Linked DNA regions of Homo sapiens: region 1 is linked to region 2. The links come from fine-mapping of genetic effects on gene expression. A gene starts in region 2. The other region holds a variant in brackets. All regions are shown on one strand. Distances are between the middles of the regions.

The links.
Region 1: its variant is fine-mapped to the expression of G6PC2 in minor salivary gland (GTEx, PIP above 0.99). The same link has a PIP of 0.9 or more in breast, lung, stomach and sun-exposed skin.

What each region holds. Positions count from the first base shown.
Region 1 is chr2:168,861,682-168,869,803 of GRCh38, forward strand. NOSTRIN (nitric oxide synthase trafficking) reads left to right here. Exons shown (of 16, transcript NM_001039724.4): 15 at 279-368; 16 at 3,153-3,833. The coding sequence ends at 3,289. It also overlaps a transcript of SPC25 not described here. Among named protein-coding and RNA genes, the nearest start is that of SPC25, 25 kb to the right of the region's middle. The variant A/G (reference allele first, on the strand shown) is at 3,190.
Region 2 is chr2:168,896,423-168,904,571 of GRCh38, forward strand. It overlaps G6PC2 (glucose-6-phosphatase catalytic subunit 2), which reads left to right and starts at 4,869. Exons shown (of 5, transcript NM_021176.3): 1 at 4,869-5,127; 2 at 6,023-6,132; 3 at 8,083-8,149. The coding sequence starts at 4,910.

The DNA.
Region 1 (8,122 bases), 35 kb before region 2:
CTATTATTATACAATGATGTTTTTCTCTAGACTTGCTATTTCATGTATTATAATATAGTTTTTGGTTATATAACATATGCAGTCCATACATATAGAAAGTGCATCATAAGTGGTTATTGAATCAAGGAATGAACATTATATAAAATTACAAACTTTCCTTTTGAGAAAAATTTAATATATTGAAACTCTGCATCACACTGTTAAATAACCAAAGAGCTTCAGCTCATATTCATTTGCCTGCTAACACAGCATACTAATTACAGCTTTATCTATTTCAGCCCCTGGTGCAGCCCAGCTCAGCAGCAGACTTTGCAAGGCCTTGTATTCTTTTCAAGCCAGGCAAGATGATGAGTTGAATTTGGAAAAGGGTAAGAATCATTCTCAAATATTTTAATTGCCTTCCCATATTGAGATTCTTAGCATGAATAAAACCCTGTCTTAGTGTGGCAGCCTTAAGAGTTACTACCATGTCAAATCAGTTCACCCTTCTTGAAAGATAAGCACATCTAAAACAAAAGCTCGCATAATGATAATAGCTAACGCTTATTCTGTTTACTGTGTGTCAGACATTGTTGCAGGCCTATTGTCCAATTTAATATTCATGAAACCCTTGGAGGGTTTTATTGGTATTCCCATTTCATAGCAGAGGAGACTGATACACAGGAAGGTTAGGTGCTTTGGCTAATGTCACAGGCTGTGGCAACACAAGATTTGAACTTGGAAACACAGTCATGCTCCTAATCACAGTGCACACTAGGGTAGAATGTCAGTGATGGAAAGTGATTAGAGATGTACCCCACCTTTTTATTTTTTAGAAGCTAGACATTCAGGAATGTGAAGTGACCTCCTCTCTCAACTTAGTGTAAGTAAGTGCAAATTCTAGAACCTAGGTCAGCTGACTCCCAGCTTAGTGCTGGTCTCACTTACTTCTCAGAAAAGCTTTTTACAGCCAGTCTAAAGAGTGAGATCCCCTTCTTTGTGTCACAGAGTTTTACTTAACATGGAAAGGTATTACGTAGTGGCTTTATAATGTAAACCACAACATTATTAAAGAAGAAAGTCTCCAGCCTCAACCTTCTTTATGTGTCCAGTTAGAAACCATGTTTGAATGTTAGCGCTAATGCAGAGATCTGGAAACGGAAGGGTTAGTGAGAAAGAGTAACGTTATGGGAGAAAGAATATTATCCACGACAAGGACATGGCTCCCAGAGCCAATGGAAAATCAAGATACATTTTGTAGCCAAACGACAGGGACACCACACATTTGCTATTTATTGGGTGTTTCCTTTGCAGCATTTGCCAGTCATATCTCTCCAGGCAATTACTTTTCTTCCTATGTGAATAAAAGACAGACATACTTCCCAGATGCCACCTAGAACCCATGGATGCAGCATTTAAGTTACATCATTCACAATAAATTGATTATCTTGTTTTCAGTTCTCTGTTGGTTGCAAAGCCTACTTATACTTTATATTCTAAGCAGTTTCTTTAAATGAAACACGACGTTGGAGCCTTAGGGAAGCTGGCAATACAATTTGAAATCATTATTTGTTTGAATTCTTGTTAATAGATTATGTCAATTTACTGACGAGGGAGAACTTAGAGACCGAGAATAATGTCCTTTAAGAATAGTGATTTATGACTAAGAAAATGTAGAAAAGATAGAAAAGGAGTTAATAATTTCCTTTGTCTTAGAAAGAAAGTTGCTGAGGAAAAGAGTGAAAGGAAGACTGAAAAATCACCTCAGAATGATGCCAAATAAAAAGTAGCTCTTGGATCCTGACGGGGGCAGATGATCCTGAAGGGGGCAGATCTTTCTACTTTTATGACAAGAGCCATGTTTCTTGTCCAATTCTCTATGGAATTCTCTTTATTTGAATCATTGCTTTAAAAAATATTGTCTCCAAATTGATGTTGTATTAAAGTTGTCTAAGTTGTTGAATGGGGAGTTACATTTTGAATGGGGAGTTACATTTCTGTGCAAAGCTGTGAGTGAGTTAAACTTTTGGCCTGTGAAATCAGGGATAATGCAGAGACATTGTCTTGATCTTAAGAAAAGACTGTTGGTGAGACATACTTATAGCAGCCAACACGCCAAACAATCAAAAACACCAGCATGTGAAACCCTCAAAGTACGGACACCAAGAAAGAGTTTGGTGACAATCCATCAGCTACATAGAAATAGAAAGTGAGCCAGGCAGCATAAGGATATATGATCCAACGTGATCTTTTTTTATTTTTTTTTTTGAGGCAGAGTCTTGCTCTGTCACCCAGGCTGCAGTACAGTGGTGTGATCTTAGCTCACTGCAACCTCCGTCTCCTGGATTCAAGTGATTCTCCTGCCTCAGTCTCCCAAGCTCACTGCAACCTCCGTCTCCTGGATTCAAGTGATTCTCCTGCCTCAGTCTCCCAAATAGCTGGGACTACAGGCGTGTGCCACCATGCCTGGCTAATTTTTGTATTTTTAGTAGAGACGGGGTTTCACCATGTTGGCCAGGCTGGTCTCAACCTCTTGACCTCAAGTAATCTGCCTAATCTGCCCATCGCGGCCTCCCAACGTGCTGGGATTACAGCTGTCAGCCACCGTGCCTGGCTGTGATCCTGTTTTTTTTTTTCTGAGACAGAGTCTTGCCCTGTTGCTGTTGCCCAGGCTAGAGTGCAGTGGCATGATCTCAGCTCACTGCAACCTCTGCCTCCCGGGTTCAAGGATTCTCCTGCCTCAGCCTCCTGAGTAGCTGGTATTACAGGCGTGCGCCACCACACCCAGCTAATTTTTGTATTTTTAGCAGAGAAGGGGTTTCACCATGTTGGTCAGGCTGGTCTCGAAACTCCTGACCTTGTGATCCACCCACCTTGGCCTCCCAAAGTGCTGGGATTACAGGCGTCACCCACCACGCCCAGCCAATCCTGTCTTTAAGCAATTATTTTATGATATATCTCAGTTGTTCATTATCTTACTCTTTTTAGTATCCTCTGGATTATGCCTGCTTTATACACAGGTGTTCGATACATTTGGCTTCATCTGAATCAAGTGCAGAAAATGACACTACCAAGTAAATCCTTGAAGCAGAACCTCCTTAAAACTCTTATCAATCGGGCTGAGGCATGTGTTCACATCACAGAGACCCATTTGTCTAACTGTATTTTCACAGGTGACATTGTGATTATACACGAGAAAAAAGAAGGAGG[A/G]TGGTGGTTTGGATCTTTGAATGGGAAAAAAGGCCATTTTCCTGCCGCTTATGTGGAGGAGTTACCTTCAAATGCTGGCAACACAGCTACAAAGGCATAAAACAAGACTCTGAACATACTACCTTCACACTCGGTAATCAACAATACAGTGTGGTTCAAATAAGAATAAAGTGCTCTTACCTTTACATGTTTTTCTTTTGAAATGGATGGAGTTCTACCTGCATGTCACAGCACTTTGCATTCATGATTATTAGCTTGAAACAGTCAGAAAAAAGATGGATGGGTGGAGACAGACAAGGAAGAGGCTCCTTGGTTCCTAGAGGAGTTTCCAAATTCTAGGAGACCCTAGAGATGATCCAGTATAACCCCTGGTGTCACAGAAACAGACGGAGTCCAAGGTGGGTTCAGCTGCTTGCCTGAAGTCAGAGTTATCTGGTAGACAACAGCAGTGGGACTTAGATGTCTTTTTCCTCTGGATTTGGGTGGCAACAGAACACAGCAGGCCTATGAGGGGGTCAAGCAGAGCCTGGGAGATGAGGAACACAGATCAATTCCAAGAAGAGAGACAGGCAATCAAGACACCAATGAGATCAACCCAAATTAGGGGATGGTAGGATATCTCTGACAAACCCACAGCCAATATCATACTGAATGGACAAAAACTGGAAGCATTCCCTTTGAAAACTGGCACAAGACAGGAATGTCCTCTCACCACTCCTATTCAACATAGTGTTAGAAGTTCTGGCCAGGGCAATCAGGCAGGAGAAGGAAATAAAGGGCATTCAATTAGGAAAAGAGGAAGTCAAATTGTCCCTGTTTGCAGATGACATGATTGTATATCTAGAAAACCCCACTGTCTCAGCCCAAAATCTCCTTAAGCTGATAAGCAACTTCAGCAAAGTCTCAAGATACAAAATCAATGTGCAAACATCACAAGCATTCTTATATACACCAATAACAGACAAACAGAGAGCCAAATCATGAGTGAACTCCCATTCACAATTGCTTCAAAGAGAATAAAATACCTAGGAATCCAACTTACAAGGGATGTGAAGGACCTCTTCAAGGAGAACTACAAACCACTGCTCAATGAAATAAAAGAGGACACAAAGAAATGGAAGAACATTCCATGCTCATGGGTAGGAAGAATCAACATTGTGAAAATGGCCATATTGCCCAAGGTAATTTATAGATTCAATGCCATCCCCATCAAGCTACCAATGACTTTCTTCACAAAATTGGAAAAAACTACTTTAAAGTTCATATGGAACCAAAAAAGAGCCCACATTGCCAAGTCAATCCTAAGCCAAAAGAACAAAGCCAGAGGCATCACGCTACCTGACTTCAAACTATCCTACAAGGCTACAGTAACCAAAACAGCATGGTACTGGTACCAAAACGGAGATAGATATAGACCAATGGAACAGAACAGAGCCCTCAGAAATAATCCCGCATATCTACAACTATCTGATCTTTGACAAACCTGACAAAAACAAGCAATGGGGAAAGGATTCCCTATTTAATAAATGGTGCTGGGAAAACTGGCTAGCCATATGTAGAAAGCTGAAACTGGATCCCTTCCTTACACCTTATACAAAAATTAATTCAAGATGGATTAAAGACTTACATGTCAGACCTAAAACCATAAAAACCCTAGAAGAAAACCTAGGCAATACCATTCAGGACATAGGCATGGGCAAGGATTTCATGTCTAAAACACCAAAAGCAATGGCAACAAAAGCCAAAATTGACAAATGGGATCTAATTAAACTAAAGAGCTTCTGCACAGCAAAAGAAACCACCATCAAAGTGAACAGGCAACCTACAGAATGGGAGAAAATTTTTGCCACCTACCATCTGACAAAGGGCTAATATCCAGAATCTACAACGAACTCAAACAAATTTACAAGAAAAAAACAACCACATCAAAAAGTGGGCGAAGGATATGAACAGACACTTGTCAAAAGAAGACATTTATGCAGCCAAAAAACACATGAAAAAATGCTCATCATCACTGGCCATCAGAGAAATGCAAATCAAAACCACAATGAGATACCATCTCACACCAGTTAGAACGGCAATCATTAAAAAGTCAGGAAACAACCCAGGTGCTGGAGAGGATGTGGAGAAATAGGAACACTTTTACACTGTTGGTGGGACTGTAAACTAGTTCAACCATTGTGGAAGTCGGTGTGGCGATTCCTCAGGGATCTAGAACTAGAAATACCATTTGACCCAGCCATCCCATTACTGAGTATATACCCAAAGGATTATAAATCATGCTGCTATAAAGACACATGCACATGTATGTTTATTGCAGCACTATTCACAATAGCAAAGACTTGGAACCAACCCAAATGTCCAACAATGATAGACTAGATTAAGAAAATGTGGCATACACTGCAAAAACATGCCAAAATGTAAAGGCCATCAAGGCTAGGAAGAAACTGCATCAACTAACGAGCAAAATAACCAGCTAACATCATAATGACAGGACCAAATTCACACATGACAATATTAACTTTAAATGTAAATGGGCTAAATGCTCCAATTAAAAGGCACAGACTGGCAAATTGGATAAAGAGTCAAGACCCATCAGTGTGCTGTATTCAGGAAACCCATCTCACATGCAGAAACACACATAGGCTCAAAATAAAGGGATGGAGGAAGATCTACCAAGCAAATGGAAAACAAAAAAAGGCAAGGATTGCAATCCTAGTCTCGAATAAAACAGACTTTAAAACAACAAAGATCAAAAGAGACAAAGAAGGCCATTACATAATGGTAAAGGGATCAATTCAACAAGAAGAACTAACTATCCTAAATATATATGCACCCAATACAGGAGCACCCAGATTCATAAAGCAAGTCCACAATAATAATGGGAGACTTTAACACCCCACTGTCAACATTAGACAGATCAACGAGACAGAAAGTTAACAAGGATATCCAGGAATTGAACTCAGCTCTGCACCAAGCAGACCTAATAGACATCTACAGAACTCTCCACCCCAAATCAACAGAATATACATTTTTTTCAGCACCACACCACACCTATTCCAAAATTGACCACATACTTGGAAGTAAAGCACTCCTCAGCAAATGTAAAAGAACAGAAATTATAACAAACTGTCTCTCAGACCACAGTGCAACCAAACTAGAACGCAGGATTAAGAAACTCACTCAAAACCACTCAACTACATGGAAACTGAACAACCTGCTCCTGAATGACTACTGGGTACATAACGAAATGAAGGCAGAAATAAAGATGTTCTTTGTAACCAATGAGAACAAAGACACAACATACCAGAATCTCTGGGACACATTCAAAGCAGTGTGTAGAGGGAAATTTATAGCACTAAATGCCCACAAGAGAAAGCAGGAAAGATCCAAAATTGACACCCTAACATCACAATTCAAAGAACTAGAAAAGCAAGAGCAAACACATTCAAAAGCTAGCAAAAGGCAAGAAATAACTAAGATCAGAGCAGAACTGAAGGAAATAGAGACACAAAAAACCCTTCAAAAAAATCAATGAATCCAGGAGCTGGCTTTTTGAAAAGATCAACAAAATTGATAGACAGCTAGCAAGACTAATTAAGAAGAAAAGAGAGAAGAATCAAATAGACGCAATAAAAAATGATAAAGGGGATATCACCACCGATCCCACAGAAATACAAACTACCATCAGAGAATACTACAAACACCTCTATGCAAATAAACTAGAAAATCTAGAAGAAATGGATAAATTCCTCGACACATACACTCTCCCAAGACTAAACAAGGAAGAAGTTGAATCTCTGAATAGGCCAATAACAGGCTCTGAAATTGAGGCAATAATTAATAGCTTACCAACCAAAAAAAGTCCAGGACCAGATGGATTCACAGCTGAATTCTACCAGAGGTACAAGGAGGAGCTGGTACCATTCCTTCTGAAACTATTCCAGTCAATAGAAAAAGAGGGAATCCTCCCTAACTCATTCTATGAGGCCAGCATCATCCTGATACCAAAGCCTGGCAGAGACACAACAAAAAAAGAGAATTTTAGACCAATATCCTTGATGAACATTGATGCAAAAATCCTCAATAAAATACTGGCAAACTGAATCCAGCAGCACATCAAAAAGCTTATCCACCATGATCAAGTGGGTTTCATCCCTGGGATGCAAGGCTGGTTCAACATACGAAAATCAATAAACGTAATCCAGCATATAAACAGAACCAAAGACAAAAACCACATAATTATCTCAATAGATGCGGAAAAGGCCTTTGACAAAATTCAACAACCCTTCATGCTAAAAACTCTCAATAAATTAGGTATTGATGGGATGTATCTCAAAATAATAAGAGCTATCTATGACAAACCCACAGCCAATATCATATGGAATGGACAAAAACTGGAAGCATTCCCTTTGAAAACCGGCACAAGACAGGGATGCCCTCTCCTACCACTCCTATTCAACATAGTGTTGGAAGTTCTGGCCAGGGCAATCAGGCAGAAGAAGGAAATAAAGGGCATTCAATTAGGAAAAGAGGAACTCAAATTGTCCCTGTTTGCAGATGACATGATTGTATATCTAGAAAACCCCATCGTCTCAGCCCAAAATCTCCTTAAGCTGATAAGCAACTTCAGCAAACTCTCAGGATGCAAAATCAATGTGCAAAAATCACAAGCATTTTTATACACCAATAACAGACAAACAGAGAGCCAAATCATGAGTGAACTCCCATTCACAATTGCTTCAAAGAGAATAAAATACCTAGGAATCCAACTTACAAGGGATGTGAAGGACCTCTTCAAGGAGAACTACAACCACTGCTCAGTGAAATAAAAGAGGACACAAAGAAATGGAAGAACATTCCATGCTCCTGGGTAGGAAGAATCAATATCATGAAAATGGCCATGTTGCCCAAGGTAATTTATAGATTCAAT
Region 2 (8,149 bases):
TGGGAAAGAGTGGAATAATACAGAACCCCAAATAAGGCAAATGAAAAAAAAATGACTTAAGGTAGAAGTTGAGAAAGTGGTACAAGAAGAGGCCAGCTCTGCACAGGAGGTACAGGAGGGGTACCTTTCAAGGGAATGATGAATGAAGACAGCGCTTCTAAAAATTAATGTGTATAGAAACCATGTGGAAACCTTACTAAAACGCTTTCTGGATTTAATTTCCAAAATGTCTCATTCTGTGATCTGGAGTGGGCCTGGAAATTGCATGCAGGTGACAGGAGGAAGGTGGTCCACAGGTCACACTTTAGGAAAGACAACTTCAAAAAGAGGATGAGTCAGGTGGATCTACCCTCTTTTGGATCTTGGTCTGGGTAGGTTGAATGTGACTTTGTTCCATCATTTGGTAAACTGATTTTGGACAGATCTTAAACTCTAACAACCTTGGCTTTGAAATGACCCAGCTTGTCAGGCAGGCTGTGTCATTGGAGGGAAGAGCTCCACTGGAAGATTACTAGTGTCAGAAAGAACCAACTTCCTCTATCTCCCTACTGCTGGGGCCCACATAGGATACAGGAACATCCCCACCCTAAGCCGTGGCAACTCGAGTGGCAGACGGTAGATGAGGAGGACTAAAGAAATGTGTAGAAAGAGATTTCCCACAGGAACAAATCATAAAATACATGTAAGTGCTGGGAAGAATAGCTCACCAGTATAATGGATCAAGTGGTGTTTTCACTTCTTTCGTTTTTAAAATTTTGTATGAATCACATCTTAATTTTAATTTTGTTGTATAGTTATGTAAAATATTTACATGGTTTCAAAGTCACATCTATAAAATAAGTATGTTCAAAGAAGTCTACTTTTTAACCCTGTTCCCTCTACTCTCTTCTCTTCTTTCCTTTACAGAATTTAAAAATATATTTATTTTATATATAATAAATATATAAATTTATTACATATAATAAATATATCTATTACATATAATAAATATATCTATTACATATAATAAATATCTATTACATATAATAAATATTTATTTATTACATATATATTTTTATATAAATATAAATATATAAAAATAGATATATATTTATTATGTATTTTTATATATAAATAAATTATATAATTTATTACATGTGATAAATATATATAATTTATTACATGCAATAAATTATATAATTTATTACATGTGATAAATTATATAATTTATCACATGTAATAAATGTATATAAAATAAATATATACTAAATAGAGGTGGGGTATTGCTTCGTTTCCCAGGTGGTCTCAAGCTCCTGGCTTCAAGTGATCCTCCCACTATGGCTTCCCAAAGTGCTGGGATTACAGATGTGAGGTACCATGCTTGGCCAAAATATTTTTTAATTGTTTATTCTTCTATTTAATCATAAGCAGATGTGTGTGTTTGTGTGTGTGTACATATATGTGTATATATGTGTGTGTATATATGTTATATATGTATATATAATTGTATATATACATATATGCACACACACACAAAGGGCTAATATATGTATATATACATATACACACATCTGCATACATATTTATATATGTATGTACACACACACACATATACACATACAAATATATTAGCCCTTTCTAGAATACACATTATATATATTTTCTCCACCTTAAATACACTTTCTTGACATTGCCACTATATAACATGATCTCTGTGGAGAAATGCATTTTGAGTTTGCACTAACCAAATAACATAGTTTTAAAACACAGGCTCTTTATAATTTAGTACTCATATCAACTTTGTTCAATAATTCATTCACTCAATAAACATTTACTAAATAACTATGATGGGCCCAGGGGCAGTTCCAGGTTTTGTGAAATCTAAAGCCCCTGTTAAATGGCTTTATATAGGCCCCTCTATAAAGCCCCTGTTATATAGGCCCTCTCTTTAATAAAAAGAAAATAAACTCGTGAATGCACTCTAAACTATCAGTAACCACCTGCCTTTTTTTTTTGACAGAGTCTCACTCTGTAGACCAGGCTGGAGTGCAGTGGCACGATCTTGGCTCACTGCAACCTCTACCTCCCGGGTTTCAAGCGATTCTCCTGCCTCAGCCTCCCGAGTAGCTGGGACTACAGTAGCCCACCACAATGCCCAGCTAATTTTTGTATTTTTTTTTTAGTAGAGATGGTGTTTTACCATGTTGGCCAGGCTGGTCTTAAACTCCTGACCTCAAGTGATCCGCCCACCTCGGCCTCCCAAAGTGCTGGGATTACAGGCGTGAGCCACTGCGCCCGGCCCAACCTACCATCTTAGGCGCCCGTGCGAACTTTTCCAGCTTCATGGGTAATTGGCTTCTACACGGGCCTGTTATGGGAACTGTGCTTGTGGCTGTTGCACAAAGTGGACAGGACCCCTTGTTTTATGGAGCTTATACTGTAGTACAGGAGAGAGATGCTAAATATATACACTTGTCATAAATATATAATTATAAATTGTGTTTAACTCCCGGTTATGGGCTGAACTGTATTCCCTCAAATTCATGTTGAAGTCCTAAGCCCCAGTACCTCCCAAAATGACTGTGTTTGGTGATAGGGTCTTTAAAGGGGTGATTAAGTTAAAATGAGGTCATTAGTATCTTCCTTAATCCAATAAGACTGGTATCCTTATAAAAAGAGGAGATTAGAACACACCCATATAGCGGGGAAGACCATGTGAAGACATAGAGAGTAGACAGTCATCTGCAAGCCAAGGACAGAGGCTCAGAAGAAATCAACGCCACCGACGCGTTGATTCAGACTCCTAGTTTCCTATATTTCTGTTGTGTAAGCCACCCAGTCTGGTATTTTGTTATAGCAGCCCTAGCAGACTCAAACAACCCCCTAGGAGAAAAGAGTGTGTGAGAGAAAGTATTGTCAGAGGAGTGGTGAGGATGCTGGTCAGAGAAGGCATCACCGATGGATGCATAGAAGCTAAGATATGAAAAGACTAAAAATGATGAACTACGAGGAATAAGCAGATTAGCAGATGCTGTTAAAGGGTGAAAGAAATCAAGATGCTTTTGCTTCACTTAATTATCCCACAGTCTACAGAACCAGGTAGTTCTCGAGAGAAAATCTTTCTAAATTAACTACCATAGATGAAAGGCTAATCACAGACTCTGAGGTGCTGAAGAGCAGGAAGTTTAATTTTTAAGTGGAAGACAAAATGTATTTGATATCATTCACATCCTGATTTAAGGATAAGACATTTCTGAAGAAAATGAGTATTATGAATTACGTAGATCAAACACTTTTTAGAAAAAGAATAAAGGGAAGTTATGCTCTTCCTCATGGCTCATTAAAGAGATTATGGAAATTACAGAACCTGAATATGCAAAACAAAGAAAAGCCAGAAGCATAGACTCTAATTAGTCAAGGATAATTCCTTATATGAATTGCCTTAGTGCAATGATTCTAAGCCCCTTATACCACATTGGAACCACTTGAGAAGTATTTTAATAATACCAATGCCCAAATTCCATTACCAGAAATATAACTGATCTCAGGTGGAACACAGTTATGGCAATTTAAAAAGCACCCCAAAAGATGTTAATGGTCAGTCAATGCATTTCTTCCAGGTAAGGTACCAATAGACACTGAAGCCCAGTAACAATGGTGCTGTTAAATGATGGGACACAAAACTCGAAGAGAAGTTCAAAGTGATAGTTATAGCCTGTGAAGGACTCTAGTGAAGTCTTTTGTCTTTACTTAGGCCATGGTAAGCAAAGACAAAAATCTGAATGACAAAATAACAAGTAAGGTTACCTAGATCCATCCCTGGCCACCTTGTGAGGCTTTGTTGCTTTCCCACTAATCCTAGACACAATCCAGCTCTCTAAACCCAACATCTCTCTGACTTAGATCCATAGCCTCTTTGTGCTACCCTTCTGTTCATTCTCAGTCTACCCTGGTCCATAGTCCAGGGTCCAGTCGTAGTCTATAGTCCAGGACCAGAGTCCTGGTCTATAGTCTAGTCATAGTCCACAGCCGTAGATTATGGACCTATGACTTAGATCCACAGCCTCTTTGCGCTACCCTTCTGTTCATTCTTAGCATTTGTTTGGTGCTTTCCACTTCTGTTTAACACTCTGTTCTCAACAAACCATTTTCCTGATTGGTCAAAAGCCCTTTGATGTCTATTCCTATCTTTGTCACATGAATCATTCCCTATTCCTCTCAACTGTATTCTCTAGTTAATAAAAGATACAATTTGATCCTAACACATTTCTATTATCCAAATGACTTTCATTTCTGCTTTCTTGTCTTATAGTCAAAAAACAACACATTTCTTTCCCTGTTCCATATATATTCTATCATTCTCTTGGATAAAGAAAATTGAACTATTCTTATTTTAAATCAGTGATCAGAACATAATCTGTCATATCATATATTTTTCATACCCAGATATTTATTCAACCATTTTCCTCAAAGACCCAATAAAATAGAGAGCCACAGCCTATCTTAAATTAAAATGCAGGGCTTTATGGGCTATTTGACATGCAATAATTATTTGCAAAGTCTTTTCACCAAACATAGAAATTGCTAATGTCTGACCTTGGAGGAAATGAACTGTACAAAAAATTTCAAGCAAACATGATCCAACTGTTCGCACAAAAGGGAGGTTGCATAAGAAATTCATTGTGTTTCTATCCAAATTTCCCCCTCGAATTGCCACAGATCAGCATGTACTTCACTCTTTGCCACCAATTAAAATCATAAATAGATGAGCTATTCAGCAGAGGAGGGCTGGTGTGCCCTCTCCACAGATGGTCAGCATCACATGTTGCAGTAATGGCTCGACATGCCACAAAGGCACAGTATAAAAACGGTGGGAATCAGAGCACTTCAGCTCCAATTGCTCTATGTTTAGAATTGCCTCTTTTTCAAGATGGATTTCCTTCACAGGAATGGAGTGCTCATAATTCAGCATTTGCAGAAGGACTACCGAGCTTACTACACTTTTCTAAATTTTATGTCCAATGTTGGAGACCCCAGGAATATCTTTTTCATTTATTTTCCACTTTGTTTTCAATTTAATCAGACAGTTGGAACCAAGATGATATGGGTAGCAGTCATTGGGGATTGGTTAAATCTTATATTTAAATGGTAAGATTTCTGTTTTATTTCATTTTTTCCTAAGATTTATCCTTAAATTTGTGACTTCGGCATAATGATCACATTTCAGATGTATATCGTTTTACTTGGAAAATCTTTCAAAAATACCAGGTAACTTGAAACACCAGATTCATAAGTAGAACTTTTAAAAGGCACAGAAATGTATATATATGTTTTTGTTTTTTTTTTTTTTTTGAGACAGAGTTTTGCCCTTGTTGCCCAGGATGGAGTGCAATGGCGTGATCTCGGCTCACTGCAACCTCTGCCTCCCAGGTTCAAGCAATTCTCTCACCTCAGCCTCCCGAGTAGCTGGGATTACAGGCATGTGCCACCACACCCAGCTAATTTTGTATTTTTAGTAGAGACAGGGTTTCTCTATGTTGGTCAGGCTGGTCTCTAACTCCCGACCTCAGGTGATCCACCGACTTCGGCTTCCTAAAGTGCTGGGATTACAGGTGTGAGCCACCACGCCAGGCCAGAAATGTGTACTTTAATGACTTATAAGTAATTCCCAAACCCCTGTAACACATATTCTGTGATTAAGAATTACTTACATGAGCAGCGTGATAATGAACAAATTGATAATTCTAGGGACAAATTTTGATATTTCCAGTCTAAGTATCCAAAGCACCCATAAGACATTCCCTGCAAGGGAAAAAAGCCCCCATGTTCATGGGAAACCAGGGTGCCAAAATACCAAATGGCTACCACCTTTAATAATGTGTGAGAGACCAAGACCTAAGTTTTTTCAAAGTCTCTTAATCATGAACTTTCACAATTAACCCTGCGCTTGAGTCATTTTTTATAGGAAAGAATTGCTAATCTCCAATTAAATAATAGCTGTGTATTTAAATATATATGCATGTTTATAATTCTTTAAATACAGGATATTATTTGGTCATCGACCTTACTGGTGGGTCCAAGAAACTCAGATTTACCCAAATCACTCAAGTCCATGCCTTGAACAGTTCCCTACTACATGTGAAACAGGTCCAGGTAAGCTATTACAGCAGGCTCCAGTTACTGAAGATCTTCCAATAGAGAATCATTACACAGGGTTATCATCTAGGAACTGATATTATATAGGGTAGTAAAGAAAATCTCATGAGTGAGGATGCTAAAACTTCATAACAATCAAAATTACTAATGAGGAAGCAAAGCAAAAAAAATACTCAAATTCCATTTTGTTATTTATGAAAGGGTAGATTGGGAGAAAACTCCCCCAGTGATTAAATATTTGGTGTTTACTTTTCAGAAGAATATAATGACTTGATACTAAAACAAGAAACAGTTAACTAGAACAAATTCTCAAGGAACTAGACTAAGATCTTAGAAATGTTGGTTAATCTGCTGCTAAGCAACTTTCAAAGTTACTATAGGTCTTCCGAGTATCTCACGAATGAGGGAGGAGTAGACAAGTCTTCTGTAAGAAAGGTAAGGACTTCTCAATGTTACTATAGCCAGTAAAGACTATTTCTAACCCTAGAACAATCTCTTTAAAACATATTTTTTCTCTGTACACAAGTAGGCTTCTTGGGCCACTTCTTTTTTATTCTAGGTAAGATTCTGTATGAGTATAAAATCTTTATTGTGATAGTTGATTCTAAGACTGTTTTAAAAAGTTTTTTGAAACATATATTTAAAAATTACATTTTAATTTATAAGAATGTGTTATATTGTACCTCATCATTTTACATAGCATAACATTCTCGCCAGTTGACATCCTTCGAAACTAACTTTGAGTAAAGGGTAGTAGAGAATGTGTAAATTCTTAATGAGTGTTCTGAATATGTCTTTTTTGTTCCCATAGAAGTATACATACATCTGTTATATCGCTTATTACACTAAATGATATTAACTAATTCTTTATATATCCGATTGCCTAGACTGGGTGTTCCATCAGGGGAGGGATGATGCATAGTTTATCTTTGTGAAACCAAAGTGTGATAAATGGATGAATGGTTGGATGGGTAACATTTGAGACCACCGAAATGTTATCGTGGTCAATTCCAGTCCTTTCCGGCATGTGTTCCACCTTATAAGACATTTTCTGGAAAGAGAGAGAGAGAAAAGAAAGAAAGACTGCATCTCTCGGGGAGATTTACAATTTTTTAAGGCATAGTTTTTAAAAGGCTCTGAAAATTCCTGCAGATAAGAAATAGGTCTGTCTTTGTTTAACAAATAAGAGACTGGTATTTAATTTGAATGAACTACCAGGTGAAAAATCGAGGAGGACATTTAAGGAAACTAATAAAAAATTCAGTAGCATGGAAAAGGCATTCTGGAAGTAGAAAGGCTTTTTCTGCTAGGATTAATGCCGTCTTTATAGCTTCTCCTCATCCTCTGTTTTAAAACAAAGATTCTCACTGCAGTGGCCACAAGATAGGCATAGAAGTAGCTGCTAGTACACAGCAGTCATTTGTAAGTCAATCAGCAAATCACTGGCATAGCAATGATATCCTTTAGAGTTTGACTTCTCAGCCCAAGGAAAATAAGCCAACTGAAGATCCAATACAAGCATTAGGGTGGTGCAAAAGTAATTGCGGTTTTTGCCATTACTTTCAATGGCAAAAACCGCAATTACTCTTGCATTAACCTAATACTTTTGCTTGTCAATTAAAAACAACCAAATATTGAAGAATGAGTAGGGCTGTGGCAGATTTGGGTGCAACTGCCTGAGTTCTTAATTAGCCTTGAGTATATTGATTTCTGGAATTCAATGAACCTGAAAATCTGGGAAAAAAATTTTTTGAGACAGTGTTTCTCAGGCTCAATTTAACTCAATTTTTCTTATTTCTACCCACTTCTAAACATTACATATAGCCTGTGTCTTGTCTTTTTTTCTGAGTTACTCATAATTTTCATGGGGAATATGCTATTCTATTATTCATTTCTGATCTTGATAGTTAACCACTTTTCAAATGGACGGACACTTTGTTGTTGCAGGAAGTCCATCTGGCCATGCAATGGGCGCATCCTGTGTCTGGTATGTCATGGTAACCGCTGCCCTGAG